Regions from separate parts of the Homo sapiens genome. Here regions 1, 2 and 4 are each reported to be linked to region 3. Evidence: microRNA targets listed by miRTarBase, many of them from high-throughput screens and not tested one by one. Region 3 holds a microRNA gene; each other region holds the end of a gene's coding sequence.

Region 1 (8,008 bases), not on the chromosome of region 3:
CCACAGACTGAGTGGGTAAACAAATTTTTATTTATTTATTTAGAGATGGAGTCTCGCTCTGTTGCCAGGCTGTAGTGCAATGCTGCAATCTCGGCTCACTGCAACCTCTGCCTCCCAGGTTCAAGCGATTCTCCTGCCTCAGCCTCCCAAATAGCTGGCACTATAGGCACATGCCACCATACCCAGTTAATTTTTATATTTTTAGTAGAGACGGGGTTTCACCATGTTGGCCAGGATGGTCTTGATCTCTTGACCTCGTGATCCGCCCACCTGGGATTACAGGTGTGAGCGACCATGCCTGGCCCAGAAATTTATTTTTTTTATCACATTTCTGGAAGCTAGAAGTCCTGAGATGAAGGTGATTTCTTTTGAGGCTTCTCTCCTTGGCTTGTAGATGGCTGCCTTCTTCCTTTGTCTTTAGATGGTCTTTCCTATATGTGTCTCTCCTCTTCTTATCAGGGCCCCAACTATATTCAATTAGGGCCCACCCATATGACCTCATTTTACCTTAATTACCTCTTTAAAGGCCCTGTCGCCAAATACTGGCATGTTCTGAGGTACTGGATTAGGACTTCAGCATCATGCACATTTTGAAGGGACATAATTCAGCCCGTAACATTTTGCTTTGTATGTTGTGAATTTTCCATAATGAAAAGTTTTTGTAAGTTTTGTAAATATAAATGAGATCATATTACTCCAATCTATAATCTCCCTGCCCCCACCTTCCAATAACTTTCCATCTACCTGCTTTGGGGAATTCACAGAGGTTTATCACCTAGTAGTTAATGAATTCTGTAATTTTTCTGTGACTTTAAAGGGAAGATATGGCCTGGGCATGTAGGCCCAAAGTTATTTATATGTATTAACATGTTGTTTATTCATGATAGTTTGAAAGTTTTGTGCCTTGTTTTTGCCAACATAATTAAAAGCCAAAAGTACTGTTTGTTTTTAAAAAATCTATTTCATATAAAAGCCAGATTCTCTTCTTCCTTTCAAAATTGACTCTTAGCAGTTCCATATATTTATGATACTGTCAGAAATATTAGCTGATTATCACAATTCATTGTCTTAATGATCTCAGAAAAAAATTAAGAAACCGATTTCTCTTTCCAGCCTCCATCAAGAAATCGGCGAGAGAGAGCTGAGCTAAGGCCAGACTTCTTTGACTCTGCAGCTATCATAGAAGATGATTCAGTAAATGTCAAATTATTACTGCTTTTTATTTATGGTTCCTGGGTCCTGTTTATGCATGAAATTAATAATTATGTTTCTCATCATTTTTCTAGGGATTTGGAATGCCTATGTTCTGAAGTCTGAAGAAAATTTACAAATCTGGAACTCTATTATTTAGAGCTAGAGGCCTATATACTGTGATAGCTTGTATGGGGAAAAACACTTTTGATGTGATCTGATTTGTTTTTTAATCAAATGATTAAGGTCAATCCCTTTTTGCAGTGACAGAAGAGGAGCATGTAAATTACCCAAGGGAATGTTGGTGAATGTCAACTCAGAAAGACTGACCTGAAAATCATTTGTGTCCTACTATTGGACTTATCCCAATACAGATGTGTGTGTTTTTCTGGAGGGAGGAAGAAATTTTAAATTTTTAAAACAGCTGTCAAGATAAACACTGTTATACACCTGTTTTATGAAAACTCAACATTGAGTAAAAAAAAACATATTTTTAACTTTATTTTCCTGTTGTACAATTTAAAAACCGTTTTAACATTTTGCCTTTTTATGTTTTAAAAGCTAACCATTTTTATTAAACCTATGAGTAAGCAGCTCATCCTAATTGCGAAGAGTGTTTTGGAGTTCACTGGATTTGGTTGACCTTTGTGGAACACAAATAATGAAGGAGCAGAACATTGACAAGCTAAGATGAAATTCTGACATAGTACATCTCTGCCAAAAACCACACACCCTCTGTGGATATGGATATGAATTCCCAGATTTTATATACTCTTGAATAAAAGGTTTATTTTTATTTATAAGTGGGCATAAAATAAGAAATGTCCATGCAGCCATTTTTCCAACAGATGCTGTACACCGTTCATTTTATATAGACTAGGGAGATTCAAATACAGTGCATTTTCTATTGGTATTTGTTCTGTGCATTTTTAGCAACTTCTACCAGCAAATAAAGTATTCTCAGTAAAACGAAAATGATTCTCAAGTTATCAGTTTGCTGTTTTTACCACTTATTTCATGCCCTGCCAAATTCAAGTTACACAGACTTCCATTTTCTTAAGATAATCAATCATGAAGAAATCCTTTATCAATCATTCAAAAGTAATTTTAAGTGTAACATAACTGTGTTTACTTCCCATGCACTTAATACCCTTATGCGCTAATTTTGTGAATTAAGTTTACTGATTATAGAAGTATGTGCTGCATAGAAGTCTGTGCTTAGAGGGTGAAGTTCCTAAGCTTACCTTGAATTACAGCTACATTTCAGTGTTAAATGTGCATATTAAGAATAATTCTTTTGGGGAAAGAAATTATGAATCTTCAGGACAGTCTACAATGGTTTAGAGTTACATTCTGCCTAGACTTTTATGACTTGCTGCTATTGTTTTAAAAACCCCACTTAGTCTCTCTCTTCCTTTCTGATTTCTAAAGTAAGCCTCAGAATTTCCAAACCAATTCATCCACAGCTGTTTCTGGGCTGGTTTTTAAAGTAGCTGCAACAGAATCATGAGGCTTTCCCTTTTTATCAAATACGAAAAACATTTTTTAAAATTCTGCACACCCAGTGATCATCTTTTGTGCGGGAAAGCAAGATGATGATGGATGATTTTATTCATCCTTTTAGTAAAGACACAAAACATTTTTCTCAACATTTGTACAGTTCTGAAAAAAACCTGGTCACCAAAAATATCTTCTCTGCTAATTCAGCAATTCTTGGGCTCCAGTTAGGGGAGCTGGGGCCTCACTTTCTCCCAGAATTGTGGGCTTCACTGGAAGTGAAGGTGCAGGAATGACTGGACTGTCCACCCCAGCCCTGCCTGCCTGTGGTTTTGGCCAGGGAGCAAGCCATGAGGTGCCCTGGCACATGCACAAATTGATCCTTTGCGTGACAGTCTTGTATGGAAAACAGATGCTGACAGAATTGTAGACTACCATGCCACACAAAAAGGCTAAATATCTACTCCAATGGGTTTCCAGTTCAGTTTGAAGTCAATCAAATTTTTGTATTTTCGGTGTCTCCTTGATTGGTTTTGCTAGTAATTCTGTAAATTGTACATTTGCAATATGAGGTTTTTTTTCCTTTTGTACAATTTGAAACTGATGCTTCACCTTTCCTTTAATAAACTATTCAAAATCAGGCTTGTGGTAGTCATCCTATTGTTTCTACCAGGTATGGCTTTAAAGAGATGATTTTCTGTCCTGTGGCTCTTGAGAGAGTTTGCAATTTCTGATAATCTGTTAAATGGCAGCAAGTTAACCTTATTAGTGAGTTGGTGGTTTTGTTGTTTTGGCTTTTTAATTTTTTTTAAGAAAGCAGAATTTAGGAATAGCTCACTTTCTTTCATTCCTTAGATTTCTCTGGAGTGTGTGTAGGCCAAGTCATCTGTGGTTTAAGAGGGAGTCTCTTGCAAACTGAGTTTTGCATGAGGCATTCAGGGAACACCCATCCACTGGCCTGTAGCATGGGTCCTCACGGCTTGAGACTCTGGGCTTACATGCATAATTGCACCCTGGCAGTGCCCTTTTGAAGACCACATAGAGTCAATGCAGCTACAGAAATGAAGTTTTCAGCCAGGCATGGTGGCTCACGCCTGTAATCCCAGCACTTTGGAAGGCCAAGGTGAGTGGATCACTTGAGCTCAAGAGTTCGAGACCAGCCTGGGTAGCATGGTAAAACTCCTCTACAAAAAATACAAAAATTAGCTGCGTATGATGGCGCACACCAGCTACTCGTGAGGCTAAGGTAGGAGGATGGCTTGAGCCCACAAGGTGGAGGTTGTTGCAGTGAGCCAAGATTGCACCACTACTGCACTCCAATCTAGGTAACAGAGCCAGACTGTCTTAAAAAGTTTCTCTTGGCATTAGACCTCCTCACTCTTTCTTTAAGAAGTCATACCCTACACACTTCATGGGTCTGGCAATAGGGGGTGAGTTCCTTAAATGGCCTAATATGCCTATGCAAAAAAGGCAAAGGTGTGGGAGACAAATCAGCAAGCAAGCTTTCCAGACAGCCAAGGAAGGAAGGTCATTTAAGGATGGTCTGTAACAGCTCATCTAGATGGTTACAAGAGTATGAGACTAGATGAGCACTTTCAGGCTTGGGTCAGGCTTGCAAATCTCCCATTTGTGGCTTGACTGTAACTCCCTGTTTGCCCCTGTTCCCAGGTAACAGTCCATCAAGCAGGGACTAGTATATTCATGGGAAACAAAGGTTTGATGCCACTCAGGCTTGCCTTTTTTTTTTCGGGGGGGGGGGGGGGGCGGTAAGTGAAGACAGGGTCTCGGTCTGTCACCCAGGCTGGAGTACAATGGTGTGATCTCAGCTCACAGCAACCTCCGCCTCTGGGGTTCAAGAGATTCTCCTGCCTCAGGCTCTCAAGTAGCTGGAATTACAGGCACCCACCACCACGCCCAGCTAAGTTTTGTATTTTTAGTAGAGACAGGCTTTCACCATGTTGCCCAGGCCGGTCATGAACTGAGCTCAAGCAATCCACCTGCCTTGGCCTCCCAAAGTGCTGGGATTACAGGGCATGGGCCATCGCACCCAGCCTTAGGCTTTTCATACTAGACCAAGCTCAGGTAAGATTCTATCCCTGCCCTTCTGAGTGTCTTGTTCTGTGGAGATCTCCATCAGGCACCACTTTTTGAAGAGCATCTTTCTGCTCCCAAGGACACATAAAGGGAGTATTTTCACCACCCAGGACAGTAGGGACATGGTCAAAACTTAACTAACTATTGAGGCTGCCACATTGGCTGGAATATGCCAGCTGGATTCCACAGAGGCCCCAGACTGAGGCACTGCCTATCAAGTGGCTGCAACTCCTGCTTGGAATTGTAGAAATCCCATGCTGACATCAGAGGTGCACAGAGTATGAGGACCAATACTTCTAAAAGGGTAAAGTCATAGCTCTCCAGAAATCCTTTGGAACCAGAAAGACAAAACAGTCACATCTGTTGAATAGGTGAAGAGGGCTGATTCATCAACTCCACATGTGGGTGAGTATCCTTCACAGACTTCTTTGGCTGAGCAGACCACATCTTAAGCACCAGCACCAGGACAAAGTATCAGTGCAACCAGAGGCAGAAAGTTGGGCTGGGGAGACCAAGACAGGGTCAAAAAAAGAAGCTAGAAGAACTTTGCAACAAAAGCACTTTCTAACAAGCATTAGAAGGGTGTATTGTGGATGTGCTCCCCATTACTCTAGCAACTCAAAAAGATGACTGGCCATCTGTTGGTACTGCTTTGCAAGAGAATCATGCGGGAGATAGGAAAGCTGTCTAAATGTAGTAGCTTTCTGGGTTAAGACAAGCCCAGGGGAACAGACCACCAACCTCCCTCACCCCTACTCTTAGGCCAACCCTTAGAAGTCCATCTCACCTTCCTCATCAGCTGAGTGGTAGTACTTTGAAATGATCAGAACACAGGCTTGGCTGGGGTCAAACCCATCTGAGTTCAAATCCCAGCTTCACCACTTGTCAGCTGTGTAGCTCAGGAGGAACTGGATTAACACAAGGCGGGGCAGGACCAGCAAGACCCTAGCAGTGCTTCCTACACCACAGCTCACCATATTATCTGCTCTCAGTTTAAAGACAGACACTTGTCAGCTATCAGCTCAGTGGACCCAAGTATTTCCCATTTACAAAATTCAGTGTATTTTCTTTTTCCCTTTAAGGTGAGGGCACCAGCTGGGGAAGGCATTCCCACACAAGAGAACACTCAACTGTCATTACTCTCAAGGTATTCCGTGGTCCATGGAGGCTGGTCCACTTGACAAAGCTTCCAAGGTCTTGTGGCTTTGAGTTTCTTTGACCAGCTGAGTTTCTGTACGGGAGTTTCCCCACCATCCAAGGCTTCCGTAAAGCTGCTAGCCCAGCTGCTCTCCTGAGCTGGTTCCTCTACCATCTTACAGCCCCTCTACCATCTCGGTGTCCAGACTGCACAACCTGGTGAAACACTTCTTGGACTCTTACCTCCAAAAAGAAAAAAAAGAGCTTGTATGTACTCTTTTATGGACCATAGCAGAGATCACGAAAACAAGAACTGTGGGCTCAGAAAACTCACTAGGCAAGCAAGGGAGGGACAGACTGTCCAGGACCACCTACGTGGGCTAAGGACTCTGGAGAACAGGGAGCTCTGGAAGTGGCGCTGGAGCAGAGGAATGCAACAAAATCTGGATCTGGAGTTAGTATGGTAGCTGAGAACAGGACTTCCAGCTCAGTGGGAGGCCACAGAGATCAGTGAAGAGACTGCTGCAAAAGTCCTCAGAGCCCAACTAGGATTGGTGACTGAAGGAGAGTGGAAAGATGCTTTAAGAAAAAAAAAAAAAAAAAAAAAAAAAGAATGACTCTTAAGGGCTACTGGGAATGGGGGGTAGGGGAAAATATTTTTGAAATGGGAAAAGTGGAGAATAAACAGTCACACATTAAGTTGACCTTGAAATAATGATTCACTGTCCAAGCAGTGCTTACAGATCTCTGGAGCCAAGGGAAAGCCATCAGTAGTGGGAGGGCCCTGGGGTTTCACCAGAGAGGATGCCTGAGGTGGGGGGGCATCTTGGATCAGCACTCCATGGTTGGTACTTCTGCTCAAACTTAATCTCCAGTTCGGTAAAACTATTAATGTTTTAACTTAGTAAAATCAAGTCAACAGTGTAGGAGGAAAGGCTTTAAAGTGGTTTACAAACAAAAAGGACTAATTCATATTGATAACCACTCAGTTACTAATTGAGGTAGCTTAACCATGTATCTTCAGTTTAAAGACAAAATGAACTACAAAGAAGTCGTGAACTTTAGAAGGTTTATTGTTGATAGAGCTGTAGTGATTCTGAAACTTGTATTTATGGTAGCACTGAGCAAATGAGTGAAATATATTGAGAATAATGGGAGCCAGGGTTATTACTGCTGTGGTAAGAGAGACAATACAGAATGGGGGAAGGCAAAGAAGCACCCATGGTGTTGGATTAAAAGTTTCAGTATGAACTCATGATTTAAAAGTATGATAAATATGTATTCATATATACATGTGTCCCACATATATATACACACACTTATTTGCATAAATTTTCCTAGTTCTGTCTGCTGAAATGCCTCAAAGCAATGATATCCAGTATCAGTGTGAATACCTAGTGCCAATTTTAGCTTCTAAATGACATACCTACTAAAAGAAACTAAGAAACTACTATATACTACTACTACATACCTATTAAAGAAACTCCTTGGAGAAACTGCTGATTCCTGGGCTGGGCAAGGAAAATACAAGATAAGCCTAGAGCATTATCTTGTCAGAAAATAACGAAATACTAAAAAAATCAGTGGGATATATTAAAAGCACTTTGGGAGGCTGAGGCGGGCAGATCACGAAATCAAGAGATCGAGACCATCCTGGCCAATATGGTGAAACCCCGTCTCTACTAAAAATACAAAAATTAGCTGGGCATGGTGGCACACACCTGTAGTCCCAGCTACTCGGGAGGCTGAGGCAGGAGAATTGCTTGAACCTGGGAGGCAGAGGTTGCAGTGAGTCGAGATTGCGCCACCGCACTCCAGCCTGGCGACAGAGCGAGACTCCTTCTCAAAAAATAAATAAATAAAATAAAATAAATCAAGTCCAAAATGATACTAAGAAAACAAAAACAGGAGAAAAGAAAGCTCCCTTCCTTACCTAGAGTTCCAACTAATAAATATGAGAGAGTTAGAAACTCAACATTTTATAATCAATGCAGAATCATTGATTGAGGCAAAAATCATCAATGAATACTAAAATTATTGGGTGAAAGTTTATTTATTTAATTTTCTGAGACAGAATCTAGCTTTGTCA
Region 2 (8,219 bases), not on the chromosome of region 3:
AAGTTGAAATTAAACAAACAAAATAATCATTAAGTGCTTCCAGTTATTAAAAATGAAACAGTGCTAATATTGGTGCCCAAGAAAGTGCCAAGTGATTAACACCAATATATGGCATTCCCACCCCTGAACTTTAGGCATTCTTGAATGATTCCATTGGCTAGAACTCTGGGCCAGCCACAGGAAACCCCCACCTCCTCCCCGACCCCATCCAGAAGATCCCAGGCCTATGTGAGCATGACTCACAATCCTTGGAAGGGAAAAGAACCAGAAGGAGCCTTTATGAGATGGGAAACAAGGCAAAGTTGAGAAGATCATTCAGCCCAAGACACTCCACTCTGAGGTTTTGGCTAATACTAATGACATACAGTTTAAAAGGATAAATTAGGCCACAATACCAGCATTCCTCCACTACTGTATTCAATCCATGGTCGAATCTCTGTACTTTAGAAATACTGCTTCCAGTATAAACCTCCTCTTTGAGAAACTTACAAACTAATAAAGATTTTACACAAAAGCAAACATAAATGTAGAAATTTTAAGAAAGGACATCCTTATTTGCTCAATAATACATGAACCTAAGAGAACAGTTTACTATGACTTTGTTTAGAGTATGTCACATGTAAGCAGTGTATTTCTAAAATGTTGGTGAGCAATTCATCTTTAAGGCCTACTGAAATGTGCAAAGCATTAATCTTTTAAAAAGTGGCAACTGCAAAGTGCAGCAAATTTTTTTAAGTTTTAGTATAAAATAGACTAGGAGCCATCAATGTATGTTCCCTATGAAAACAGATTTACACGCGCACACACACACACACACACATTCAGTCAATACATCAGTATATATGCATACACATACATTTACTAGGACAATAAATCAGAATGACTTGGAAAAAGAAATGGTCTAGTCTCCCAATTAAATATTTCAAAGTAAAGTTTTCAACCTCATAAAACTTCCTGATGTGGACTATACTCAAATGATTAGCACTCAAGAGATTAACTATGTTTGATTGTATCCCTCATGAATTTTCTTGTTAAAAGTTTCCTTTAAAATTATGTCAACAACAGCATGAATTTCCTGTTTTCTGTAGAAAGCTTAGAGCCAGTATTTCCCCTCTCATACAAACCACTCTGGATTTTCATATTTCACAATAAGTAAGTGTGGATGGCAGCACCTTAGAAATTGCTATTTTCTGGCAGGCTATCAATCTATCATAATTTTTTTCAGAGAAGTGACTTGAAGAAACTGACAGTTTCAAATGAAACAATTATACTACCATTAACGATTCACCTTTCAGATTTGCTCGGCTTACAGGTCAAAACATGACTTGTATAGTAACAGGTTCCACCAAGTACAAGAAATAAAATCAAACCACCTTCTTTTCTTAATACACGACCAACCACAAGAATTCTAGATCCTAAGATTAAACTTCAACTTCAGTAAGCAGAGTTCTGATGACATAAGAGGAATAACAGGGCACTTTGTTTCAGGCAATGCCAGCAACATTAAAACAATAACAAAACATTTGTTGATCCCAAACCAAGAATATAATTCTATTTTCCACAGAACCCAGTCTCTGGTTAGAGTACCTGCTGAAGAAAGACAACTATGGCTGACCTCCACACTTCACTTACACTACTATGGACTGAACAATTAACTTCTCAATACTATTTTAGAAATAATATATTCTATCATAGCTTCAGATGACACACTACATCATGAGTAGTATTTTAACTTTCCTATTGGTTTGGTAATTCATTTAGAGCCCCAGATTTCTGCACAGAGACCTGCATTGGTCTCCAAACTTGTTTTCATACCTAAGAATGGCACCTAAGCACGATTCTAGACTCCTGGCACGGGTAAATAAAACATATACAGTCAATGAGGTTAAAAACAGAACAGACCTATAAAGAAAAGTATTCCTTTAGTTGCTGAAATATCAGATTTTAAAAATCAAAAACTTATTAATGCAGCAAGAAAATGTAACTTGTTATATATTTTAACATAAAGCAACTTGAAATAATTCTAAATTTGTTGGTAAAATATAACATAAGTCCCAAAGAAGTCTGTGAGCAGACTAGTAAAATAAAAATAGAGTCATACCTAACATGAAGATAAGAGACAACAGGCTGACGAAAGTAATAGGAATAAAGCTGTGGAAAACATGTGGTAATGGATTATTATTTGGGAATTTATCAAAAAGAATTAATGTGAAATTTCAAAAGTTGACAATAAGCTCTCCTGAAAAACTCCAAATCTCTAGGATTTCTCCATATATCATAAGAGAGCATCATATATGTTTGGAGATTAGAATGAGAATATCCTGAGTCAGCAGTCTTTAGGAAAAGCGTGTGCTTCTGGAGGGTGCACAAGACAACCAACTGGGGTGTGGGAAGAAAATACTATAACTGCTACTCAAGAATTACTTTTTATGCCATCCTTCACTTCAATTTTTGTGTATTTTTTTATAACACACATATTACTTTGGTATAGCGGTATATAATTTAACATATACCCATATGAATTTTTAATAGGGAAAGTTTTTATGTTCAATAACTCTTACTGATCAATTTGTGTGTTCAAAAAGGCTGGACACTCCTTTTCTGAACCACTGCTTCAGAGGTATTGAGAAGTGGTACTGAGTGGCTCTAAATGTGCTTACATTCACCAAAAACATAAAAGGACACCTTTAAGAACTTAAGAATCATAGTAGAAAGTCAGATCAGGATGAAACAATGTTGTCAGACTGGACGTCACACAATGCAGGGGTGAATGGAACTGAAGTGATACTATCAACAGCCTGGAGTTACAGCTCCAGAATTCCAAACCTCTGATTTACTTAAGTCAGTCTTGACTTTTAAAATCTGTAATATAGTATGTAAATCTTCAAGGAATTTTCCAGTTAAAAAAAATCCAGTAGCCTAATAGAGGCTCATAGGTTTACTGTCCCTATCAAAATTTCAACTGTCAAAATGTGGGAAAAAATTAAACTCATATTTTAACTCTAAGAAGCTTACGGTTGACCTTTCAAGGGCCTCTAATTCTTTTTTTTTTTTCCTGACCGTACTCCTCAAAATCCAGATTGTTTGTGCATACATTTAAAAAAAAAAAAATCAATGGAAATTTCCACCTTTGTTCGAACACATAAAGTATGCCATGAGCAATATAACATCACAAACGTACTGTGACAAACCATTAATAAAGAAGGATTACTAAGCCAGGTGTGGTGGTGCATGCCTGTAGCCCAGCTATGCAGGAGGCTGAGGCAGGAGGATCACTTGAGCCCGGGAGTTTGAGTCCACCCTGGGTAACACACCAAGACTCCATCTCTAAAAAATTAAATTAAAGGATTACTGAAAGATCTCATTTCTAAAAAAAGAAAAAGAAAAAGATCACTGAAGTCAGACATGATATTTTAATTTTGTATTTTGAAAAGTCAGTATATAAATAAGAAAAAATTATTTTAGAAATTATGTGAAAATCCACTCTTGGGTGGAGTAAATGCAATGGTTTGCCAGCACTGGCTCTGAGCCAACTGTGCACATCCTTTCTGAACTCTAAGGTGGTAGCTTGAAATCAGCCACAGGAGGAGTAACTAATTTATATCAAAGAATTTGATATAAAATTCTAATTTATATTAGAATTTTATTTATAATTTATATTTGCAGCAAATGCTACAAATTCAGCGCTCCCCCCCACCCCCACCCCAGAGATCCTGGTTGTTAAACATTTCTAGCACACGACTGAGTGGATAGCGACCAGAGCAGAAGGAAAGCTAAGGTATCAGAGAAGATGTCTCAAAACCCCATTCAATCTGCTCCCCTTCCGTAACTTAGGCTACTGCTGCCCAACAGCATTCATCCTGGCAAAGTGACTAGGGATGGATACGAGCTACAGCTACCAATTACAAGTCTCTCCAGTGAAAACTGATCTGAAGTGGTACATCACCTTTCACACTAAGAATTCTGCATATATTCAACAGAATATGAAGCTGAGACTTTTCCAGGAAGGAGGTAGTCTATAAACAGAACTGTCTGCCTCATACACCTGCAGTAAGGTTGTAAACTTTGACTTAAAAAAGGATACGCACACACACACTTCTCCAAATTAGTTGATCTCAAAGAGATAGCAGATCACCAATCTGTGACAGCCTCACACCTCTGAGAGGCTATAGATTTATGCAAAAAGGACTCACTAAAATGGTTTACTAGGAAGTTGCTTCAACTGAGTTTCAATGGTGCCCTTGGTTCCAAGGTACCTCTGTGCTGAGACAGTTAATTATTAAAAATACTGTCTGTGAAAACAAATCAATGGCTTTTCTCCTTTAATTCAAAAAGATAAAATACCTTTGTGCTTTCAAAATTTAACACATCTAGTTAAATCAACCATCTATATCTACTTATTTAATGTACAAAATGTTAACCTAATTAAAACTATTTCAAAGTGCTGCTGAGAGGTCCAATTTCAAACAGGCATGCAAACTAAATAATTTAATATGGAAAAAAAAGTCCAATATGTCTGTTCCCCATCACTATTAAACAATACCTTTCAACACTACTATTGCACATCTCAGGAACAGAACCTTCAACTGATAACCACAAATGAACCAGTAACAAGTCTCCGACACTACAGATATAAAGGCAGCTCACTGAATATGTTCCCTCTACTACTACTAAGTTAGCTAGCATAGATGTCTTCTTATACAAGAGCTTCTCTACACTGTATATAAGCACATTTAAAGTAAATACCATGCATCTGAAGATGCTAGTTTGTAACAGTGTCAGTCTGAGCCTTCAAGTTCTTACTTCTTCATTTAGTTCATGTGATTCTACAGGATTAGAAGACGAGTTTAACCGGTGGGAGAGATTGGTGGGGGAGGGTGGTAGTGGTGGTGAATGGTGACAACATATAATTTAATCCTGGACTTTAATTTTCAAAAGACTCCACTGTGATACTGATATCAATTCAGTTTGGGGAACCAACAAATCTGTACCTGGCATTGATTACCATATAGTAATATTTTAAAAATTTGGTAATGTAGAGAATAAGGCCTACATTTTTTACTACTAATATGAACAATCCAATCCCTATGTATAAGCATTCCCAAATGAACTCTGCTCTTCCCCATTTAAAAAAAAAAAGTTGAAAGAAATAAGCACATCTGAGCCTGCGCCTTTGGGAGGCTGAGGTGGGCGGATCACAAGGTCAAGAGATCAAGACCATCCTGGCCAACATGGTGAAACCCCGTCTCTACTAAAAATACAAAAATTAGCCAGGCGTAGTGGCGCATGCCTGTAGTCCCAGCTACTCAGGAGGCTGAGGCAGGAGAATTGCTTGAACCCGGGAGGCGGAGCTTACAGTGAGCTGAGATCGCGCCACTGCACTCCAGCCTGGGTGATAGAGCAAGACTCTGTCTCAAAAAAAAAAAAAAAAAAAAAAAAAGGAAATAAGCACATCTTCGCTCCTGACTGGGGAGGCTTCACTTTGAATTCTACCTTCCTAACTGCATCTTTAAAACTATCATAACCTCTAACAACCTTAAACATAAAGGAAAGGTGATAAATGTATAGTAGAAAATGAGGTAAAATGAACAGGAAAAAGACAGGTCCTTCACTTGGTTATCTTCTAATTGAGAAAACCACTACATGTTGTTTCAAGTTATCTGATCGAATCTTTTACTCAGAGATGTTTCAAATATTCAAAATCCAAGTTCATCCTCCTAAAAGTGATCATTTCCCATGCTGTATTCCATGGGCATATAATCATACCACCCAGAGGGCAAAGAGCATTTCTGTGCTAGATGTGAGGTCCCATATTCTTACTAGGTGTTCCAAAAACTGTCTTAAACCCCAGGTCTAAAAATCTTTCTATAGTGAAATAGACTAGCTCCATGCTCTGTTGACAGGTTCAGACAGGATCATACATATGGCTAAGAGATCCACCCTGAATAAAGGTAAACAAGATGCCTTTTCATGGAGTTGCTTACACGTTATAGTTCACACAAAACAATCTCCCCAGTATGACTGCTCCAATCTTACTTTGTATGAATAGGAATGATTCTTCTTCTTCCACTGCTTAGGAACAGCTCACTTTAAGTCATTCAACAGAGCACACTTAGTCCTAAAGATGCCAATTCATTTCACAAATATTTCTTTAAATAATAGATTCTAAGCATAATTTTTCCTGGCCAAAGGGTCCCAATAGCCAGAAGGAGTAACTTTGTTCTTAATTGCTTTTGCAAAGCACAGTCACTAAAGCCCACCAAAAACTTCTTCAGCACAAAGCTCAAAATATTTTTAAAGGAGAAAAGAAAAGGAAGGAAGGAAAGAAAAAGAAAAGGAAAAGACAGAGGGAGGTGGAGTTTAGACTCCAATTAAGGCATTTTTATACATATAGTCCAACTTGAGTCCTATTCAAAGAGAATCCTAAAAAGATGTTTTCAATGGGGAATGGCAAAAATCACAATAGTCTATTATCAGCATTGTAGAACTATCAATTGCTCACTTCAAATGCAATCATGTTGAATGTCTGTTTCTTCGTTCCTCGGTTCTCTCATTCCACAAGTGCATAGGTTATGTCTTCTGTAGGTCTGGGGAAAATGGGCCAGGGGTGGAAGGTCCATCCAGCCCAGACAGAGTGAATGGCCCATGACTGTTCAGTACAGAAGGAAACTGAGAAAGAAAACAAAACACATTATCATCCTATTACTCAACCCCAACTTTTACTTTCTATCCTACTCTATTACCTGAGGCAAAACACAACAGCCTTCTGTAATGGCTCACAGGACAAAGGCAGTGGCTGTTTATCATGAAAGAATATGATGTCATAACAAAAACTAGAAACAAAAATCTTTTGTCCTAACATATTAAATATTAACATTCTCCAACTTACCTCAATGGAGTAGAAACAAAGAACAACCTGTACCCTCCTTCATATCCTAAGGTACACAGGTTTACAATTAACCTCAAATGAAGGTTTTAGAAAGTTCAAGTAAATGACAATATGCACTACAGAGTGTAATTCAATTATGGAGCAAATCATAAACCCTCAAAAAGAGATCCAGAAAGGTATAAATAGCACTCATCCTAGAAAAGGGTTCCCCATCAAGTATTCTGAGGCCAGCTCTACAGGGAGATTCCAGGCTGAAGCTACAGGAGCACTATGACTTTGCTTAAGGTCTCAGCTGACTCTATAACTCAATTATCTGCTCATGTGTGGCAATGAAAAAAAATATGAAAAATTCTCAACTTTTTTTTCTATTCAATAATTTTAAACGTTGGCAAAAAATAAAAAGCAGAGAGATTTTTAATTTTCCTCTTTTTCCCTACCATTTCATTTCTAAAAGAATGAGAAGTTAAATTACAAAATATAAGAAAATCAGAGATAGTCAACCATGAATAAGTAAATGAATTGACTCCAAGAAAGTCTTTAAGTTATAACATCTAAGTGTTTTGGGCAAAATAATGGCTAAACCCATTAGGAATGGCAAGAACTTTCCTAACGTCTTGGTGAAGAGATAATATTCATTTTTTTAAAAATGTACATATAAAATGTTGATAAATTATCAATTCTGACTGAGGGAGAAATGGGACTGTTTGATATACCATTTTCAAGACCTTTCTCTATTAAAAAAAAAAAAATGCTTGGGCCGCGTGCAGTGGCTCATGCCTGTAATCCCAGCACTTCGGGAGGCTGAGGCGGGCGGATCACCTGAGGTCAGGAGTTTGAGACCAGCCTGATCAACATGAAGAAACCTCGTCTCTACTAAAAATACAAAATTAGCCTAGCATGGTGGCACATGCCTATAATCCTGGCTACTCGGGAGGCTGAGGCAGGAGAACCGCTTGAACCCAGGAGGCAGAGGTTGCAGTGAGCTGAGATCGTGCCATTGCATTCTGGCCTGGACAACAAGAGCAAAACTCCGCCTCAAAAAAAAATTTTTTTTAATCTTTAATTAAAAGAGGGAACCTATGTGCAGAGATCCCCCATATATGTGTGTGTGTGTGTGTGTGAGAGAGAGAGAGAGCAAGAGAGAGAGAGAGAGTGTGTGTGTGTGGATTTTGTTTTTTTGAGACAAGGTCTCACTGTGTCACCCAGGCCGGAGTGCAGCGGTGCCATTATAGCTCACTGCAGCCTTGATCTACTGGGCTCAAGCGGTCCTCCCACCTCAGCCTCCCAAGTAGCTCTAGGGGCCACAGGCACGTGCTACCATGCCTAACTT
Region 3 (8,219 bases):
ATGCCCTACAAAAGTGACATGCAGTGGGAACAAAATAGGGTATTTTATTAGAGCCTAGTTAATAGTCTATGCTATAGAAAGATTCCAAGGACTTGTTACCTTGGTGCTATTATTACTAATACAATAAGGTCACAGCAACTTTGAGTTTAATATCATCAAATAGATGGTTTAAATTTTGGATGCCTAGGAAACATGTGATCTTTTATCTTATTTTTAAAATTTCACCTACATTTTTTTTCTCCTGTGTTTTGGCCCTGCCATTTACACCATATCTTGTCCAGAAAAATTGCCATTGGCCCAGCAAAGGATACAGTCAAGTTGATACAGATGTCATAGAAATTAAATGGAAGAGTTGTGCTCCATCACTTTGACAACTAAATTACATGGAACTCAGCTGTAGGTCAGGTGCTGGTTACTTTTCCAAATGGAGCTTGTGGTGGAGCAATCTCATTTGACACTACTAACAGTTTAGATGACTTTAGATTTGGATATCCATTTGGATTCACTTTTAAATTAACTGCTCAAAAATTTTAAGAATAAAGTGTCATACGGAAACCTTGCAAAGAGTCCTTTATCAAAGGACAAACATATATTCAGAACAACTAAAGGAACAATTTTTTTTAAAGACTATTAGTTCTTCTACTTATCTTTTAATTATGCAAACATACCTACTGTGTGCATAATTTGTAAGTTAAAGAAGGCAGCAGGGTGAGTGGACAGAGTGCAGTACTTGGAGCTTAGAGGAAGTTGGTGGTTTTGTGTGTCTGCTGCAAGGGCTATTGGAATTGAACATGCCATGAGTGCTTTATTACTTTCCTATGGTTGCTGTAAAAATAGCCAACAATGGCTTATAACAGACTACATTTATTATTTCACACTTCTGTAGGTCAGAAGTCTGAGTATCATGTGTCTAGGGTAGGTCCTCTGCTTGGGCCAAAGGCAAGGTGTTGGCAGGGCCATGTTCCTTTCTGGAAGTTCTGAGGCTAAGTCTGCTTCAAGCCATTCGGGTTTTTTGACTAAATTCACTCCCTTCTGGTTGTGGGCCTAAGGTCCAGTTTCCTTGTTGGCTGTCAGCAGGGGGCCTGGATTTTGGTTGGAGGCTGCCCTCATTCCATTTCATGCTTTCCAGGTGCCCCTTCCTCTGTCTTCAAGCAGTGGGAAGTGAAGTCCCTCTCATGCTTCAGATGTCTCTGACTTCCCCTTCTGCCACTTCTCTCCTGCTCCAAACAAAGCTCCTGCTTTGAAGAACTCATGCAATGAGTTGATCCACTCAGATAATCCTGGATCATTCCTCTGTTTCTAGATCTATAACATTAATTACGTCTTAAGGACATATTCACAGGATCTGGAAATTAGGATTTGGACTTCTTTGCTGGTGGTGGTGAGGATTCTGTCTACCTTGGGTGGTGAATCCCAAAAGTTATAAGGTGTGAATATTGCCAGAATATTAATTTTTGGGTGGATAGCTAACCAATGCTTTTGTTTCCATTTAATCTTTATCATCCCATACTAGGTTTTAAGAGAAAAGAGTTTGTTGGAGGCTAGATCCTGCTATCATTTTGTGTTTCCTGCATGGTACATACAGGCTGCACCATGACTGTCTGACAGTCTCTGTCTTTAGAGAGGTTTCTGCCTTTAGAGAGATTTACAGGCACTTTGAGAAGATAATTAACAATACTATTGTCAATTGGTAGTATAGGTTCTTAATGCTCTAAAGGTATATATAGAGAGAACTTTTTGTGGTAGAGCTATGAGTCAAATTTCATGGAAAAGACTACTTTGGACAGCTTTAAAGTGTACTTCAAACATGGAGAAATGAGAAAGAGAGAAACAGACAGACATTTCATAAACAATGAATAGCAAAAGCATGGATATCAGGAAAGAGAAAACCTTCTTTGAGGGCAATTTTAACTGGAGAAGAAAGTTCTACTGGATGTTTTCTAGGGAATAATGGAGACTAGTTGATGAGATTCTGTTTCAGTGGTTTTCACATTTTTGGATTCAAGATCCCTTTTTACTTTTTAAATGTATTGAAAACCTCTGAGAAGTTTATGTTTGTTGTATAGGTTATGTATATGTATTAGTGTTTACTCTATTGAGAATTGACTGAGAAAACATTTATATATTTATTAATTCATTTTAAAATAGCCACCACATTGCATGTTGCATGTTAAAATAAATTGTGTACTTTTATGAAAAATAATTATATTCCAACACTAAGATAATTTTGTGAGAAGAGTGACTTATTTTACATTATTGACAATCTCTTTGATGTTTGGCTTAAGAGAGCTAGATTCTCACAACTACTTCTGCAGGCAATCTTTTGTGATAGCATATATCCTTTGGCCTCTAGACAGCACCGTTGTATATTTGTGAGATGATGAAAAAGATTTTGGCCCTTGGCCCTCCCGAAAGTCTCAGGGACTACCAAATGTCCTTGGACAACATTTGAGGACTTCTGTCTTATACTGTCAACGAATATCTACTGAGCACCTACTAAGTGCCAGCACTGCTGTACGGGTGGGAAGTACAGGACAAACAAGACCATGACCCTGCCCGCACAATGTTTACTTTCTCATGAGAGAAGGAGGATTCTAAAGTGAAACAACTAAGATGATTTCAGATAATGATAGGTGTTATGAAGAAAATTAGACTGGTATTAGGATGAACTGTAGTGTAGATGGGGTTGTGTTGTTATTTAGAGCCAGATTAACGAAATTGGCTCAAGGCAGTGACTTTAAGTGAGAGTAGCAGGAAGTGCAGCCGTGTGAAGAGCTATGGAGAGCTGTCTACTTTGGGGGAACAGCTGGTACAAAGCACCAAGGTAAATTGAAGAGTTAAAGGAACAAAAGTGCCAACCTGGAGGCAGAGAAAAGAAAGAAAATGAAACAAAGATGTGGGCAGAACCTATTTTATTTGAGGCCTTGTAGACCATGGCAACCCAGGATTTGAATTATATTCTAAATATTATTTGAGGATTTGAAGAAAAGAATGATGTAATCTAATTCACATCTTCAAAACATCACCATAGTTGAGAAGTGAAGCATGGGCTACAGAAGAGCAAGGAAGGGAGAGAGGAGACCTTTCAGGGGAGTGTCGCGTTAGGTTCGGATGAAACCACAGAGGAAGTAACAGGCAGTCATTACGTTCAAGATGAAGGTACAACTGACAAAACCAATACATTAATTTTCCTTTCAGTCTGATTAAAATCCATTTCTCTATCTGACCATTTCTCTAACTTGTCAAGTTTCACTTTGAAAGATGCTCCAGTATTTCAAGGTCTTAACACTCTTTCCAACTTTTGTCACACACAAATTTAATGAGCATCCTCTCTCTTAGACATCATTGTAGCATATTAATCATATACTGTCCTAACTTACCTTATCAGCTTGTGACAATGAGTCTTTTCTAAAAAAACTTTTCCTGTATATTCAAAATGAAGACTAATGAAGTTTATTTATACAAGCTAAAAATATAACACTCAGAATTACGTGTGCAAAATATTCCCTGTAAAGTATATTTTATTTCTCTTTTTCACTTCCCATCTGCCCCTTCCAAATACATCTTTGTCTTCTGGTTGTTGAGAGGTTGCAGGGTATTCATATTGTCTTATTGCTGGTACAGTAGGACGTTTGTGTATGACCCAGCTTTGTTTGTTAAGGTGCTTGAAGTAAGTAATATGCTCTCAATGAGACAAAAGCAACAATTTGGAAACAAAAGTGGAAATTAACAATGCCACTGGTTTCTGTTTAAAGAATTTATGTATCAGGCTTTCATTGTGAATAAACTCAGTAAGCAGCTACTCAAATGATGTGATTACATGGTCTAGGAATATACTCTTGGTCTCCAAAATGACTTCTCTATGACTCCTGGTAGTATATGAAACTTAGTAATTAACACTTTCTACCATTTAAATCAAATAAATATGTTTATCTCTGTGAAAATTCAGGTATTCTTAAGAGAGCCTCACTGATCCTCACCCGAAAATTCATGCTTTGGTTTTAATGGGTGTGCTTGCTGGTTTCTCTACAGAGAGCTGCTTTGACAGTTGCAAGATAAAAGAAGAAATAGTTGCTCAGAACCACAAAGAAAATAAATAGACATTGGAAGAAGAGGCATAAACAGTTTTCTCCGCCTGCTTCACCCCATTGCCTTGGCTTTTCTTGTCTTTCTTCTACCTTATCACGACCTTCTTTAGCAAACTATGATTTAGCTTAGAGGAGAAGCATGTTTAAAGAGTTGTAAGACAGGTTTTCTTTTCTAACTCTCCATCAGAATATTACTTACTTCTGAGACTGTTTTTCTTATTTATAAGAAAGGAGATTTATAACACTGTCAGCTATCTGTGTGAAGAATTATGTACATTTCAAATTCTCATTTTTTCATATGTATAGAACATTTTATGGTCTTCAGTTCTGTGATATACGTGTGTGTGTGTGTGTATATAGCATATGTGTATACATACACACACACACACACACACACACACACACACACACACGTATATGTACTGTCTTTTAAAATTTCCATAGTCGACTGGGTGTGGTGGCTCTTGCCTGTAATCCTAGCACTTTCGGAGGCTGAGGCGGATGGATCACCTGAGGTCAGGAGTTCAAGACCAGCCTGCCCAACATGGTGAAACCCCATCTCTGCTAAAAATACAAAAATTAGCCAAGCATGGTGGTGGGCGCCTGTAATCCCAGCTGCTTGGGAGGCTGAGACAGAAGAATCGCTTGAAGCTGGAGGGCAGAGGTTGCAGTGAGCCAAGATTGTGCCACTGCACTCCAGCCTGAGTGAAAGAGCGAAGCTCCATCTCAAAAAAAAAAAAAAAAAAATCAGAGTCACTCTGGTTAGGCTTATTTCCCTAATCCTTTGGAATATTAGTAAAACTGAGGCTCAAAAAACTAATGCACAAAGTCATATGGATAAAAAGCGATATCTAACCATTTATCTTCAACTCTTCCTACTATAGCACGTCGACATTTATTACCGTGTTCTAGATAAAAGCCTTCTTAGAACTATTAACATATTTCACATATTTTAATCTCTCAAATTTTGTTTCTCGTTTTGTACAATAATTTGTGCTCCTAGAGGAAAGCAAAGACTTAGTCTAATCTCTTTGTCAAATGGAAATAGACTAATGTTACTTACTATGAATAAGAGACTATATCTCTGTCCCTAGCAAGATGTCTCTGGCTAAGGGATTACCCATAGTTAATAGAACCCAGGATCTATGAGGCAGGGCTACCTGGAGCATATGACATAAGGTACACCACTTTATGTTATATGATGCACCTTATCTGAACTTGATAGCTTATATCCTTGAAATTATTTAGCAAAGCTTGATGCTGGGCAAGATCTTTAATTCATGTGAGTCTGATTTGACAATCTAATCCTCACATTTGTCGGTAAATAATACAATTAAAATATTCTGAAGGAATCTCAAGTACAAATACCAAAGATAAGATGCCTTCCCCCCACCGCCACCCCCTTACCCAGGTTGAAATGTTACTGATAAAATATGTTGGTAAATAGTCTCCCTACTGCACTGGTGAAATCAAAGCCACCCTTAAGCAGTGAAGATGGCTAATTTAATTTCAGTAGTTATAAATCAAAATTAAGCCTAGGAAACTGGACCCATAAATGGCTGCAGAGAATCCAGCTGTGTTTATTCTAAAGGCACTCCCAGATCAATTTGCATGGAGGTGATTTGGCTATGAGATAAGGGAACTGTCTTTCAGCCCCATCAGTTAGAACAGTCACCAGGATCTAAAGTACCCAATCAAGAGAATACCCCGCAATTAATTTTTTATAAGCCAAGGAAAGACTATTGCTAAAATGTAGAATAAAGCCTTTATTTTGTAATGATTACTTTTGTTCCAGAGAGCATTTTCTGGATTAAATATGAATATTGGGGATAAAAGGATTAACCGATTTTACCTCAAATTCAGTAAGATAAAGAATGTAACCTCCACCTACTCATAATCAAATCAATTGATTTGTTCTTTGGTAGAATTGGTTTGATTTTCTTTTCCCTACCTTGAATTTAACCAAAGGATATGATGCTTCTTCGATTCTGACTTTGTAGAGATGAACAGAGATAAATCAGTTTTCTTGAGTGTTCAACCTTGAATGGACAATCCTCAGACTTAGAAATAATTATTTCAACTAACAAATATAGAAGGTTATGGAGACACAAAGAGGGACAGATTCCAAGGAGTTTTATTATTTACATCAAATGTTTTTTATAGTATACAGCTTAGAAGTTGACTGATTTATGGTTTAATTCCAACTATTATATATTCACCCATACATTAAGAGGGAAACCGATGCAAAAAGATAAAATAACATGCCCAAACAGACAGAATATGTAAATGTAAGAGACAGTGCTAGAACCTACCTTTTCCCCTCAAATTTCTGGAATCTTTTCTTTCTAGTCTAATCCATTAATTTACAAAGTTTAATTATATTCAAGTAACAATTCATACGTTTCTATTTGGTACCCATTATTTTAAAATGCCATTAAACATCACTTGCTAAATCATACACACGTTAGTCCCTAAACCTCAAAATAAAATGCTATGGGCTGGACGTGGTAGCTCACACTTATAATCCCAGTGCTTTGGCAGGCCAAGGCAAGAGAATCCCTTGAGGCCGGGAGTTTGAGACCATCCTGGACAGCATAGGAAGACCCTATTTCTACAAAAAATAAAAACAATTAGCCGACCATGGTAGTGGATACCTATAGTTCCAGATACTCAGGAGGCTGAGGTAAAAGGGGGACATGATGCCAGGAGTTTCAGGCTGCAATAAGCTACGGTTGCACCACTGCACTTCAGCCTGGACAACAGAGTGAGATTCTGCCTCTAAAATAAACTTCAAAATTAATTAATTAATTAAATGCTATGAAGTATACTTTAGGTTGCAGACATATCTGCAATTTTGAAAATATACCAACTTTCTGAAGTTGAGTTAGTAATATAGATATTAGGTCCTAGTTACCATCTCTTTATTTTCCCTTCATATTTTCCTTTGCAGTTAGTGGTTGCAAGCTGCATTTTAATGCAGAAATATCAGAGTTCATTGATTCAACGTATTTATTTCAGTAGTGCAGTTGTGCCATTTTTGCATTTGTGGTCTCACATTTTGTTCCTTGCCAGTTTATTTGACCTTTGCACGCAATTGTAGGCAGGAGGAAGTCCAAAAGTCCCTAGGTATAGTGGACCAAAGGACCACAGTTATATTCTAAAAAAACACCTCCAAGAAGTCAGGAGGCAGCTATGGCAAGTTGTTTAACATCCGACTCTTACTGTCAAGTGGAGCTGGCCTTTACCACACCAGTCTCCAATCTTGGCACCTCAGTCTACCTCCTATAGTTATTCGGTTAGCATTTAGTATTTAGCATATTGGCATTAAGCACTCTGTTTCTGTTAATTACTCTACCAAAATCTGCCCACAGGATCTATATTTTTCCTTTTGTATTCTCTCCTTTGGATTTTTGCCTTTTAAATCTACTTTCTCCTTGTGATACGAAAAACCTTGGCCTATCAGAAACTATTCAAGTGTCAGCATTCAGCAGCAAAATGGGTTTAGGGGACTGGGGTAGGGCTTACAGTAAGTTTCTCGACTTTGCATCCAGTAGGTATTTTTCTAGTCCACCCATCAATAACATTGACACAGTAACTGATAATTTAGCTCTTCTCATTTACAAACTTCACTTAAAGTGTTGTGTCTTCCCACATTGCTCTTTTTAAATTAAATATACACTCATAGATTGTCACAGATTGGGATGCAGGACCAATAGTCACAAAATGAACATTTTGACTGATAGATGAAGAAACAATGATTGATGGGGTGCTTTCCTGTTGTACTAACATGAAAAAGCTGACAAGAACAGATCAGAGGGGGTGTGAATACTTGTTTAAGTGCAGTACCCACAGAGTGAATCATACTACCCAAGGGGAAAAAGAGAAAATGAAAAAAAAGCCCTCCCCAATTTTTAATCTTAGGTCATTATTGCTGGCAAATCTAACGAGATTACAAAAATAGCTTTTTGTTGATGGATCATAAAATAGGGATAAAGTTGTGGTAGATGATTGATTTTGATTCTCTGTGTTATATCATATTTGAATGTGGCTTTCACACTCTGATTAGAATTTTAAACATGTCTGGGAATTAAAAAGAAATAGAAGTTATGAAAAAAAAATCTCCACAGAGTA
Region 4 (8,185 bases), not on the chromosome of region 3:
TCCATTACTCTGTGTGTGTGTCTGTGTACGTGTATGTGCGTGCGTGTGTGTCCATGTGTGTGTGTGTTTAGGGCTGGAGAAAGATGGAAGAAGATACTGGGATAAAGATCTTTCATCTTGAAGTAGGAAGCTCTTTGCCCCATGACTTTTTGTCTCTTCAGACGAAACCAAGGAATATAAAAAGCCACATTAAAACTCTCATCTTTTAATCTTTCTGTTTGAGAAATATTTGCCTCTTTTCAGGAGCCTATTGTCTAAATGTTGTTTCAATCTTCACATTGAATAGAACTGTGTAAAATATTTTTCTTTTGTCAATTATTTTACTTTGAAAATAACCAGTTATCTGGAAGAATTTAGCAATGACTTTTTTTTTCTTTTTTAGTAGTCTCCCTAATGTTTCTCCATGAGTTATATTTTTAGAGTCCAAAAAAAAGCCACCCCACTATGAGTAGTTCTTGACTTCCCTATCCCTGCCCTTACACATAATTCACATTGATGTTCCCACACAGCCTTTTTGTGAAAAATTCAAAATGTAGTTATCAGCAGATAAACACATATTTTGACCTGCCTTATGGTGGTACTGCCAGCTAGCAGCTCAGTGGACAGTGCTAATAAATTTACTACATAAAATGCCTGTGCAAGCTCTTGAATGATTCATGCATTTTGTTTCTATTATCTTATAAAATAAGTAGATATCAGAAAAATTAGTGTATTATTACTTGTCATAAGTAATTCTGGTCTCATACTACTCATAATGAGATAATATAATATGTTCAGCACTGTTCTAAACACTTTGCATATTTATCTCATTTAATTCTAGCAAAAACCTTATGAAATACTTTTATTATTTCCATATCACATATGGGAAAACTAAATCTTAAAGCCATTAAATAATTTTCTAAAAATCTCATAGCTACTACCTAGTGATAAGATGAACAGTGAGATACACTAGACAGATTGAAAGCAGCAACATTTCAGTTCCAGCTGCAGGCTCATTTTCACATATGTAAAATTATATATATGTGTGTGTGTGTGTGTGTGTGTGTGTGTGGAGATACATATATATATATATATATGTATATATGAGCCTGCATATGCATATATTGTGTGTATATATGTATATAAAATATGACATTTTAATACCGGAAGAGTAAGAAAGAGTTCATCTTAAAAGATAGAACTCCACAAGAATGAACAATTGACCCCACATTTTGCCTTAGACAAATGAAAACTTAGTTATGAACTAGCTCTGATCCACAGCTTAGCACTTGGGAACCACTGCACTGGTTTGTGTCTTTGGACCATACCAGTGTTTACATCTGGAAGTATATTATTAAAGGCTGTGTGCAAAAGGCAATATATAACCAAGAGTGACATATGCTTTAGCTCCCCAGAACTTTCTTATAACATGTAAGAAAGTTTTTCAGTTTTTGCATATGCAAAATTAGATACTTTCAGGAATTAATTTTGTAGAGGAATCGATATATATTGGATAAAATCTTGTTCTATCATTGATTGTCTAATTCCAGGCCCCAGGGCTCTCTCCATGTTAGCGTGTATATATGACAGCCCTTTATCATTCCGCAACACACAAAAACCACACAACAACACACTGAAGCGTACAAGCTATTATATATTTTCATAATATAGAACTTTAAAGTATAGTAATCAACAGTGGCAAAATATTTCTGTCTCTGACATTATTATTTGTGAGATCCAACCTGTAATTGAGATCAGAGAAAACAGTATGGGAAAACAAATCCATGAGAACAGGATAAAAATATCATGAACAGCAAAATATGTCTGAGTATTTAAAACTGTATAGAAAAAATAAATTAGATGAACAATTGTGTAAATATAAATTAAAAAAGATGACATTCTTAATAAATAAAGTTTACTATTTACATTTTTATATATTGCCAAAAGATTTAACTTAGATCCATAAAAACACATAAACAGAAAAAAAAATAGGAGCAGCAAATTTATGCGCGTGAGGTACAGAAAAAGGATTGGAATTGTGTTTAGTTTTTGGTGTTTAGATTATTTTCTTTGTGTCTTTCTTCTTTTTCTTTTTTTTTTTCTTTTTTACAATAGGCCAGAAGAATTCTTATGAGAACAGCTTTTAAGCACTTCAATGGAGTGTCATTTTTTTGGTAGCTTCCAGAAGGTGCCAAACAGGTTTCAACATCATATTAATTAGAAATACCCATAATAATTATAACAATAATAAAAAGGTATAATATGGTACATAAATATGGAAGAGCAGTTTGTAATATGAATACATTTTCTCTAGACGAGATCACAGTTTTATTTTGTAAATATTACATTTAAGTATATATATACACACATATATGTACAACTATATATACATGTGCATATATATGTAAATTTATATTTATATATAATATCTTTATATAGATAGATATCTGCAGACAGGTTATTGATTATAGAGACCCAAGAAAGCAACTCAATAATTGTTCAAAGTTTTCCTCACTGACTGCTGGTGTGTAGTTTAAGAAGCCCCCATTTGTTTGCACTCAGAATGCCTTATCTTCTTTTAATGGAACACTTGATGTGGAATTTTAAGTCTGAGAAGTGAGGTGCCTTCTGAAGAAGAGATTTTAGAGACTCCCTTCCTCTATAAGTTGGAAATGACCAGAAGTCTTAAGTAGACGACAGTTAGCTGACTTTGACATTGTAGGACATAATCAGCTTTTAACCAAATTATAGAACTGGTAAAGGGTAAGATCAAATTTGCCAAAAAAATAAAATATTCTCCAATACAGGTCTCTCTTTTAAGGTGGACTACAATTCAGGAGCTCCGGCTTTATTCCTTGAAATATCAAACAAGCACTCCCTGTCTTGTCTTTCTAAAAGGCCGATGGGCCTGTGCATTCTTGAATAATAACCCATGGACTTTGTGTCAAGCGTTGGCCCTCACAGCCCACCTAAAACCTCAGGGCCTCAAAATCTCCTGCCCTCCCACTGTGAGGTAGGTATATAGTATTATCCCCATTTTGCAGCTAGAGAAACTGATGCAAATGTAGAGGCAATTGGATAACTTGTTCAAGATCACTGAGCAAACTGCTGCCTGGAGTCAAAAATTCTAACTTCTGTACAACAGGGACATAATTTCTCTTTTGGCTATTATACATTTCTTTTAAAAAGCAAGTGATTGGTAGGAATTTGGCAAAAGTTGAATAAGTTACAAGAACAGGCTTTTATTCATTTGCTATTTGGTTTTTATGTTTCTTGTTTACTTCGTTTGATTTGTTTCTCAAAACTCACTCAGTGGGATTACCTGTCTGTCATGTAGCAGCTTTTTAAAAAACTGGACTGTGCAGTGTGGTTCTGAGTGCAGTCTTTATAAAGCCCAGTGCTGTACTGGTAAATATAAACATTTTATAACGTGAAAAGCACAACGACACAATATGTCCCCTTAATAGCTGGAAAAACCAATATAAGCCCTCCCACTCCCTACTACCACTGATTGCCACCAAACAAATAAACAAAATGCCCACCCCACCCAACAACAACAATAACACATCAAGGGGGAAAATGTCATATTTCCTGGACCTACCACAATGTACAGAAAATAACAGACAGTGTTATCAAATCCCACTCTATGTCTTCTAGGGAAATCTTTATGTTTGTGTCTACCTACTGAGGCTGTAGAATAAACAATTTCCTTTAGGAAACATAAAAATAGGTTTTTTATTCTTAGTTTTTAATCATGCATTTTTATTTCCTTTTAATCTCTTTGTCTTCTATTATCTCTATCTGTACAGCTTTGTCACCATTTTTTTTTATTTTCTCACTTGAAGTAGTTCCAGAAAAAAACACAAAACCTCAAAACTGTTAACTTGACCTTATAATTTCCTTTCTCTTTCTTTCTTTCTTTCTTTTTCTTTCTTTCACACAGGTAAGACCTATAACAACAAATTGACAATTACAACCAAGTTAAATCGAACCTGGAAGGGAGGTAGCTGAAATCTGTCTCAAAGAATTATTTTCAACAAATAGTATTTAAGCATTGGCCAGGATGGGAATAAGACCAAGAGAACCGTCTAGGCAGTGACTCAATGTGTTGAAGCCAGGAGTGGCAGCTGATACCCTGCATTTTCAAAGCCCTACCATCTATGACAATCTTTCCCTTCCTTAACACCCCAATTCACCATCAAAACTCATTTCCCAAGGACTGTATTTCCTTAAAAGGTTGTTGGCACAGAATCTGGGGGTAATGCAAATCCTTTGGGTAGGTAGTTAAGATTGTGGCTTGGAAAAGCTTCCCTAAATAGGGCTTAGAGGACTGTCCACCTCATCTTTCATATTTTGCTGCTAACAATCTAATACTTCAGATGCAGAACCTTCAGTGTTTTAGGGCCTTTGAGCTGCTGACACACAATAGTGCATCAGAGCTGCCTCTCAGTGCTCCGGTCACCTACACAGAAGATGACTGAAGGAATGAAATGACGAGTTAATTCCCAGGAAGAAAATGAAACTGGGAACAAATGCATTGCCCAAATTGAGCTGACCCTCCTCCACTAAGGTTTGAAAAGACCCTATTAAAGATACCTTCCATGTGGGCACGAGGTTGGCCACCAATCAAGTAGCCTCTTTTGCCTAATATCCTTGGCAAATATAAATTTGTTAGCAACAGGTCTGAATGAAAGAGACTGGGTGGGTCTTGATTCAGAAGAGCTGAATTCACTCTGTGAGTCTGAAGATACAAGTCAGCCTCCAGGAATCTTTGCTTAGCTGGATAGTGTGAAAATAGATGATGATGGGAGTGAAGATAGAAAGAGGATAAGGACTGATTTGAGGGAAGCTGGTAAGGTTCTTCTGTGGCTCCTGAAATCACATCATTAGTAATGTCATCTTTGGGTCTTCAGAGCTTTTTGTATTACCTATGGGTATAATTAAGCAACTGGGAGGGTTGATACTGTTACATTTCTTAGCTTGTACCTTCTAAGGTAGTTAACACCACACAGGCTGATAACTCAGGGCAAGAGAGAGGCCTGGAGAGTTGACAAGAGTGTGAAGATACTGGAGAGGGGTTCAAAATAGGATCAATTCTTCTAATACTATTCTTATTTCTTGCTAATAATTTGTCCTTGTAATTATAGTGAAGTAATGGTCTGGATATAAATGAGATATGGTTTTGTGAGGAAGAAACATAGAGGATTATTCTTAACAACTGTGGCAGCCTTGCCAATATGGAACCCAATTTCAGAGTTTGTGAAATGGTACAAGTCTCATAAACTATCTCAGCACTGCATCCGTATTTGTGGGCACCTGTGCCAAAAGCACCTTGATATGTTTCTTAGTGTAATTGGCCAGAGATGGCCAATAGATGTCTTCTCAAGTGTTTTTGATCACCAGGTCAGTGCTATTGGGAGTGATATAATATGGTGGTTCCTAAAGTTATTTTTGGTCTCTTTTTTTTTTTTTTTTTAAGTGCTATGATAGATTAACAACACCTGCCTTGGATGCAGGAATTAGGTGGGGCTGCACACGTGCATGGTATTTTCTATCCCTATGCTAGGTTTTGTTTCTGTTGGCTGTCTTCACTAGACTTGAGATGACTTGATTTACAGTAATCCCTATGTGATGTAACTAGTCTAGACCTTCCCTTCTCCGCAATTCCCAGCTCCAGGTTTCAGAAAGTATGCCACACTCAACCCTTCTCTCCAGTTCATCCTGTATTAATTTCTTCCCATATTAATTCAAAGGGAGTGGACAGGTCCCTGGCTGAAAAGAAATAAAGAGATCCCCAAAGTGGTGGGGGCTTCCACGTGCAGTTGACTAATTTTCACTTAACTTTTGGAGGCTAGACATGGGAGAGAGAAAAGCACTGCCCAGTCACAGGTATGGAAGGGAGTACTGCTAGCTGGAAAAACCATATAGAAAACATGATGACCATGTTGAGTTGTTGGTGCTGAGGCTGTGAACTCTTTGGCTTCCTTCTGATGGCCCTCTTGAGAACAATCTGTACTGTTCTTATAAAAGATTCTTTCTCCCAGAATTATATCTCCTCAGAGCAACAGCAAGGTTCTCAGGATCAAAGCCTACTCTAGCCTGAAGGGCTAGGAAGATTAGGATAAGGATAAGGATAATAATCCAAAAGTCTCGACAATTCCAGTAGTCTCTGGATGGCTCCAACATCATAGAAATTTAACACTGTTCCACTTGTTTACAAAATCTAACACTGGCTTAGACATTCTGGACTTTCAGTGAGGGTTCCAGCATCTGATGTCCCTCAACTCCTTTCCAGGGTGAGAGGCCCACTTACAGGAAACTTAACTTCTCACCATGTGGACCCATGAGGGTTTTTCTCTTGCAGAAGGGCTAAAAAGTGAGGAGCTATGGAAAAATGTGGGTCACTTTTAAGGCAGACTGTTTGGTTGTGTGGAATTTTTCCTAACCTAGTTCTACCATCTTGGATTATTCAATGTATAGGATAGAGCAGCAGGAAAAGTAGCAGCAAATGTGGTCCCAAGGCAAGATCTGGGGGAACAGGTAAGTCCTAGAGGGATATTATGACCTCAAGCCTCAAGCAAGGGGCTGATATAATACCTTGACATTGCAATCCTAAGCCATTCTCAGATTGGCCTCGAACCCTGGAGTTGGGGTAAAATCCCCCATGGCAGCAGAAGAATTGGGGCGCTTTGCATACCTGATAATCTTTACCTCTTCCTAGGTCCTAGTTCCCTAGAAGGTAGGGGATCACAGACTGTTTCACTTCCAATCCCAAAGGACTGCACAATTGTGCATGTCCTACATATTCTGAGCCTCAGAGTGTGAACTAGCTTGACATCTCCACACTTGGTCTTAGCAGTTTCTGCAAATTTCTTTCTCCCAAGGATAGTGTTGGCTAGGAGCTTGGGAAAGAAAAGATTGAGTTTATTCCGGTCTCTCTCTGCTCATCTCCAGAACTGCCCTCACACAGATGTTTGTATGGGTGTGTATGCATGCATGTGTACTAAACACAGATGGGCACACTCTAGATATAGAACACGTTTCTTGCTGTGGTTGTGTGACAAATGGCTAGAATTTTAGGAGGCTCTGGGACTGCACACTGTATATGCAATCCATCTCAGACTTTGGGATGGGAATCCATTTCATCATCCAGCATGGCGAAACTTGGTTCATTCGCCCCAATGTGAGTCCTTCCTGGGTAAAATTAAAGGCAGACCGGTTGGGTGCTAAGGATCCCTGGTGTGGAGAGGCCATTCCGTTGAGCAGCTGACTGTGAAATCAATACCAAAGGGATGTGGGTCCTGGCGTTGGGAATTCTTTGACAACTTCTTGTCCTTCCTTAGCCATGGCTGTATCCCCGGAGGTCTTTCCGGCTGTGTTCTTGGGCCTGGGGGTCCCGACAAGCACAGTCACCTTGTAGATCACAGGACATAGGGAATGGGGTGACCTGCAGAAAGAAGAAGTGAATCAGGTGATTTGGTCTGAAGCAGTAATGATCAGAAAGGCAGTGCAGCGCAGGGATACAATCACTGGATTTGAGGAGCAGAAGGTTCAAGTTCAAGTTATGGCTCTGCTTCTTGCTATCCTGGTGATAACTTTTATCGAGCACACCATGATCATAATCACAGCAGTTTTCATTTGCAGAGGCACTTGCTATGGGTCAGGCATTTGCTATGGGGTAAGGCAATGTACTCAGTGATTTCCAAACAAGAAAACACTTTTGACAACTCTATAAGACAGATGCTGCAACAATCACCCTTTTATTGATGGGGAAACTGAAGCTCAGAAAGGAATAAGAATTTGCCAAAAGTAATAATAAGTGTCAAGTCTGGTATTTAAAGTAAAACAAGCTACTTACTTATCTCAGAGCCTCAGGTCCCTATGTAGAGCTGATATAATAAGACCCACTTTGTATTTTAAACTATAGGAGCTGAGTAAAATCATGGGTGGAAAATTGTCGTGCACTGTAGCAAAGTTGATTAATAGAACTGTGTAATGGAATATCTGATGTATAAGTGATCAAGTGAAAGAAAGGATGTGGAAGTGTCTTTTGAGAAAACATAAGTCTCTGCACATACTGGTCACTTTGACTTTAGTAGGCAATGATGAAAACAAAAAGCATGTCTCAGGGAAGCTAGACCACCTTCTGGGAGGCTTGGAATCCTGAGTAGGGAATAGATCGCATGGTGGTTTTGCACCAAATTTG

What was found. The annotated mature microRNA hsa-miR-8485 reads CACACACACACACACACGUAU and lies in region 3 at 4,485-4,505, shown strand. An mRNA with a match to its seed (bases 2 to 7 or 8) in the 3' UTR can be bound and repressed. Matches are read on the target gene's strand: a 7mer-m8 pairs with bases 2 to 8, a 7mer-A1 pairs with bases 2 to 7 and ends in A, and an 8mer does both.
Region 1: the mRNA of STAG1 is a reported target of hsa-miR-8485. Seed matches in the 3' UTR shown: 7mer-m8 at 1,567-1,573 and 7mer-m8 at 1,569-1,575.
Region 2: miRTarBase lists ELK4 as a target of hsa-miR-8485. Seed matches in the 3' UTR shown: 7mer-m8 at 4,089-4,095, 7mer-m8 at 4,087-4,093, 7mer-m8 at 2,469-2,475, 7mer-m8 at 814-820, 7mer-m8 at 812-818, 7mer-m8 at 810-816 and 4 more.
Region 4: miRTarBase lists PAPPA as a target of hsa-miR-8485. Seed matches in the 3' UTR shown: 7mer-m8 at 4,398-4,404 and 8mer at 2,341-2,348.

What each region holds. Positions count from the first base shown.
Region 1 is chr3:136,331,556-136,339,563 of GRCh38, reverse strand. STAG1 (STAG1 cohesin complex component) reads left to right here. Exons shown (of 34, transcript NM_005862.3): 33 at 1,114-1,194; 34 at 1,287-3,328. The coding sequence ends at 1,310. Among named protein-coding and RNA genes, the nearest start is that of PCCB, 85 kb to the right of the region's middle.
Region 2 is chr1:205,609,976-205,618,194 of GRCh38, forward strand. It overlaps ELK4 (ETS transcription factor ELK4), which reads right to left. Exons shown (of 5, transcript NM_001973.4): 5 at 1-6,669. The coding sequence ends at 6,571. Among named protein-coding and RNA genes, the nearest start is that of ELK4, 18 kb to the right of the region's middle.
Region 3 is chr2:50,692,458-50,700,676 of GRCh38, reverse strand. MIR8485 (microRNA 8485) reads left to right here and starts at 4,415; the gene lies at 4,415-4,505. All of the region lies in intron 5 of NRXN1 (neurexin 1), which reads left to right.
Region 4 is chr9:116,395,750-116,403,934 of GRCh38, reverse strand. PAPPA (pappalysin 1) reads right to left here. Exons shown (of 22, transcript NM_002581.5): 22 at 1,614-7,426. The coding sequence ends at 7,319. PAPPA-AS1 (PAPPA antisense RNA 1) reads left to right here and starts at 3,329. Exons shown (of 1, transcript NR_103711.1): 1 at 3,329-5,778. RefSeq lists an enhancer at 8,000-8,185.